Regions from separate parts of the Homo sapiens genome. Here region 2 is linked to region 1. The links come from fine-mapping of genetic effects on gene expression. Tissue or cell type: testis. Region 1 holds a variant in brackets; the other region holds the start of a gene. All regions are shown on one strand. Distances are from middle to middle.

Evidence for each region. PIP is the estimated chance that this variant, and not a neighbour inherited with it, causes the effect.
Region 2: it holds the start of LINC02044, and the variant in region 1 is fine-mapped to the expression of LINC02044 in testis (GTEx, PIP above 0.99). The same link has a PIP of 0.9 or more in left ventricle.

Annotation. Positions count from the first base shown.
Region 1 is chr3:113,109,066-113,111,752 of GRCh38, reverse strand. The region is part of intron 1 of NEPRO-AS1 (NEPRO antisense RNA 1); the gene reads right to left. Among named protein-coding and RNA genes, the nearest start is that of LOLI1, 6.0 kb to the right of the region's middle. The variant A/C (reference allele first, on the strand shown) is at 1,409.
Region 2 is chr3:113,166,432-113,169,118 of GRCh38, reverse strand. LINC02044 (long intergenic non-protein coding RNA 2044) reads left to right here and starts at 1,388. Exons shown (of 4, transcript NR_110823.1): 1 at 1,388-1,518. The region is part of intron 2 of NEPRO-AS1 (NEPRO antisense RNA 1); the gene reads right to left.

The DNA.
Region 1 (2,687 bases):
AAGGTCTTACTATATTGCCCAGGCTGATTTCAAACTCCTGGGCTCAAGTGATCCAATGAGCAGTCTTGTTGACTTGCATGTAGGCTTGCCTCAAGTATACCACACCATTCATCCCTCTGTTCATTCAACCAACATTGTTTGTTGAATTACCCCATGCCTGGAGCACTTACTAAGCTCCAGGCATGGTGTAATTTTGCCCCTACCCTTTGCAGCAGAGGCCTGCACAGCACAGTGTCAAGGATTACCTTAAGGAGCAGAGTTTTCTTTAGGGTTACAGCGGAGTGTGAGATCGTGGGAGATAAGGGTGAGTCACTGATCAATGGCTCAGTGAGAGTTGTGGGGAAGGAATTGAGGCTGACAAAAAGTACACAGTGAGGTTATATGTTCTTCAGGAAGGTTTGCTGTGCTGTTTAGGTTCCTTTTTAAAAGTTCATGGCTTTCAGGAGTTGTTACCTCCCCAGAGGAGGTGTTGGCCGGCAAACTAAACCCTGTACATTTTTAGACTCCTACACCTCTCCTCCACATTTCCTGCTCTGTCCACATCCAGCTGCAAAACTTCTTTCCATTTTTGACAATTTCCATATCCATATTCATTTCTTTCACGTGGTTGTCTTTTGCATGTCTTTTTCCAATCATTCCTGCCCCCACCCTGCTGCCCTGGTGCCCCTCACCCCCGGTGAATCTCTTCTGCTTTTGTGGTCTCTTCTTTCTTCTTCCATTTTTCTTCCTTTTTACTACTCTTTGCCCTCACACCCAAGGTATGCAGCAGGCTTGGATGAGAGAGTCACACGGAAGGGACTGTTTATACGTAAGAATGTTTGTCTTCTCTCCAGACGCACTGACACTTAGGGAGGGAAAGTGCGAACTCTACTCGCAGCCTCTCCTTTGCTCATGCCATTATTTATAATTATGATAATAGAAAATAATATTGATTTAACTTTTACTGTGAACCAGACACTGTGCTAAATTCTTTTCAGACTTTATCTCATCGAATCCTCACAACAATCCAACAAGGCAAGTACTATTATGACCTCCAGTTCACAGATGGGAAAACTGAGTCTTGGCGTGATTAAAGCACTTGCTTAATATCCTAAGCTAGTAAATATCGGAAAGTCACCCACAGCCAGCTCTGTCTGACTGCAGAGCCTAAGGTGTGACTTTACAATGCCTTACTTACTTTCTGGGCTTCTATCCTTCCTCCAACCCACCTCCTACTTTAAGTTAACTCCCTCTCTCTTCCTAAAGTGAACTCGGCAGTCCAGTTGGCTTCCTTCCAGCTTCAGTGAGCTGGGGAATCCCTGGCATGGGCTCAGCTATAAGTTCTATAGAACATCATAACTGCTGGTACTAGGGCAATAAAATCTTAACAGTCTCGGCCGGGCACAGTGGCTCACGCCTGTAATCCCAG[A/C]ACTTTGGGAGGCCAAGGTGGGCAGATCACCAGGTCAGGAGTTTGAGACCAGCCTGGCCAACATGGTGAAACCCCATCTCTCCTAAAAATACAAAAATTAGCTGGGCATGGTGGCAGGTGCTTGTAATTCCAGCTACTTGGGAGGCTGAGGCAGGAGAATCGTTTGAACACGGGAGATGAAGGTTGCAGTGAGCCGAGATCACGCCATTGCACTCCAGCCCAGGTGACAGGATGAGGCTGCGTCTAAAAAAAAAAAAAAAAAAAAAAAAATCTTAACTGTCTCCACAGAAGACGACTGTAAATTCTTCTGAAGTCCCACTTTGGGTGTAAAAGTTCATGCCTCTCTTCCCCCTCCTCCTCTTCTCTTTTCCACCCCACCTCCATTAACTGCCCCAGATTTCATGAAAGGTCCCATGCATTAAAACAAGGCACAGAAATCCCAGCAGCCTCCAGCTGCAGCGGGGTTGTTTTGTCTATGAAATGTTCTAAAAAAAAACCAAAAAACAAAAAAAAACAAGGTTTCACATCAACTTTGCTCAGGATCAGGGACACATAGCTTATGCTTTTTGGAAAACTGTAGAGAAAGAAGAAGAGGCAGAGGAAAATTGCCAGTGAGGACAACAGAAGAGAACCAATGAATAACTCGGAACGCATAAGGATACCCAGAAGAAAACTTTGTGAAAATGACACCTGAGGGGCTCTGGGATTTTTCCTCTCTCAATTATTTTCATCTTGTTACCTGGGTCCTGACAAGCCAGCTGTGGTCTCTCTGAAAAATTCATTTGGCTGTCTTGAACTTAGCTGAAAAACAAGTATCAGCAGAGGTCTGAGAGGGAATAAGAGCTCGTTTCTTCCTTCTGGGATCAAGTGAACAGGTCTCAGGACCCTGGGGGGGCGGTGCATGGAGAGTAACCAAAGGGCCCCTTTTAGAGTCTCCTTTCTGCCCCAGAAATAATTGTATCACATTTAGACAAAATGTGAAAGTCAGACAGGAACCTGGGAAAGTGACCACTGGGACAGATCTGGAGGGGGCCATGTGACCCCAGTCCTGGACATCACATCACAACAATGTTGCTTTGCCTTCTTTCCCCTAGGAAGGGGAAAGTTCAGAGGGAGACCCTGGGAAGTTGAGGCTTAGATAGGTAATGGAGGTGCATGTCAAGGGTAGGAGAGATCCGGTGGGCCTGGAACTATGACAAATGGAACAAAAGGGTTTTATGTGTCCTGTGAGATAAAACCCAAAATGTATTTGTCTAAATCCCACTTCCCTCTTAGTTTC
Region 2 (2,687 bases), 57 kb before region 1:
TTTTGGAAAAGCACAACTTTCTGTTTTTTTCCTGAAAGCAAGATTTTTAAATTTCCAAATTATGCTCATAAAGTTTCTCAGATGTCAAACAGGTTTTCATAATAATTATTTTTGATGATTTAAGGGTAAGTAAATAAAAAGCATATGGATTAAATGTCCCTTAAAATATGCATGTTTTAATATTATGGGGTATGGGGGTAGTGCTTGACGAAAGCACTTTGCATTTCACACAGCCCTGATGTTTGAAAAATAGGGCATTTGATGAGTTCTAAACAAGACCAGGTTCTCCTATCTTTGGCAGAACTCTGTGAGCCAGTTTTCTGTCTTTCCAAGAGAAACGGTCTGCCCAATCCTGGGGAACAACAGCCCCCACCCCTGCAAGTAAAGCTTGGCAAACGTGAGCCGTCGTTCTCAGTTGAGAAAACAGGAGTGAAGTAATGGCCACAGCCCGCAGTTACCCCTCTGGAGTGGCCTGATTTATAACTGCCTTGGGAGCCTCACGGTATTACATCGCTTGATTTTGTACACACATAATGTCTTAGCCTTCCCACCCCACAATGTGTTAGGTGGTATTAAAGGTTTTCCACTGGGGCATATAAAATCTTGGCTTTTATCCAAGCCAAAATCCAGCCACCCCTTGAGCATTATAATTGAAGTCTAAATAGAACTTGGCATCATTCTAGGGTCTCTCAATCAATCAACTAACATTAAATGCCTGCTAGAGCAAGCCCTTACTATGATGGGGAGTGAGAGGAAGGGAGAAAAAAGGACATTAAAAAAAGTTCAGAAACACAGAAGACAAAGTCCCAGTTTCAAGCAACTAATGATCTGCTTGAGGGGCTAAGATAAGACACAGGGGAAATGATGAAATGCCACCAGGCAGGTATGGATAAGGGAGGCTGGACTGGGAAGGCTCTCTGAAATAGGAGTAACTTTTGATGGGCCTTAGGGATTGAGCTGGTTCATTCACTTGTGAAAATTCACTTGTGAAATATTTACTGAACACCTACTATATGCAACATACTGGGCTAGTACTGAGGATACAAAGGAGAGCCAGACAGGCCTGGTCCTTGCCTTTGGGCAGCTTGCCTCTGAGTTGGGAAGATAGGCATCAAACAGCTAATTATATCATTCAACCTTCCTTATAATTGTGAGTGCTCCAAAGAAGAAGATCAGGGTACTTGACCAAAGTTAAATGTCTTAAATTTTCCTAGACCCTTAAAGTGTGCTTCACCAATCAGCTTGATATAAAGGCAGAATCTCAGGCACCTCTCCAGTCCTAGTCAATCAGAATCTGCATTTTTAGCTCAATGCCAGGTGATTCTTTTGTACATTAAATTTTTAGAAACAGTACCAAGATAGAATTTTGCAAGACAGCAGAGGACTCCCGGATCACACATGTGTTAGAATATCTGGATTAAATGAATCAGACACCCCTTTTCCTGGATGATATTTATACACCTGAATTGTGTGTTAAGGAGCCTGTGTTGCTTGCGTAGATGCTGAAGAGTGGCCGAGGTAAGTTAACATGCCTCTCAACTTTGCATTATCCATTTGTATCTTATTTTCAGTTATATGTCTACTGGGTCAGGATCCTTTCACGCTCCAAAAGTAGGAGATCTATTCTGTTTGGCATCAATATTTCCCTGTGCCTCCCTCCCTACACTCTCAGTGCTGGCTAATGCTTTCCAGATGAGGTGTGAGCTGCTGCTAATTGTACCCGGATCAGTCTTGATTTGTGTTTCAGTCAGCAAGGCACCTCACTAATGGGTCTGAAACTTGGCAGCAGGCCTGGGACCAGTGTCAAAGGAAACAGATCCGAAAGGCACACCGAGAATGGCAAGGAGACAGGGAGTCGACAGAGAAAGATTTGCAGGATGAAAGGAGGGGGAGGAATCAAAGGGACAGGAGAAAACAGGAGAGCCTTTGGGGAAAAAGCAACAGAGAAACAGACCTGGGAAAGCCGGGGCTGTGGAGGAAAGGGGAGAGGGGCAAACAAAGGAAAAGGCCGGGAGGCAAAGGGAAAAGGAGCAATGCATCTGTATCTCTGAGAGGAGGAAAAAGAGAAGGCAAGATGATCAGGCTGTGTTTTGTGATGTGATCCTGAACGCTGATAATGCCTGTGGTTGCTCACAGAGAAATCCTATGTGGGGAGTGTCAGTCCCATTCCCATCTGCAGGCAGAAATCTGATGCCTCTCGCCTTTTCTCTCTGGCCTCCAGCTTTCCGATGGCTTGGCAGGGAACGCTGAACTCTGACAGCAGCCAGTGAGTGAAGGCTCAAGTTCTAAGCCTGACAGAGTTAAGGGACTCAGACACACCTTGGCTTTATGAGCTGAGGCCCGAGGCAGGGCCTCTGCTGGCTTGAGCTCCTGGAGCCAGCCTTCCTGGAATCGAGCTGGAAAGAGGCCTTCTTAGGGGAAGCTGAGAACTGAGGCCCAAGGCCTTTCTGAATTGGACACATTCACTGTACTTATTTTTTTTAATCTCCTCTATAAGAGGGGGGAAATCCACTTGCCAATATGAATTCCAAATTGTTTAAGTAGGGGAGAACCCATATATGCATGCAAATTTGTGCAGGCAAGCAGAGAGTGAAAGAAACAGGGAAACAGACTGAGGTTACCAGTGGACGGGCTAAACATTGCCTAGGACAATAGCAAAGCAGTGGCACTACCTACCCAGGCTCCCA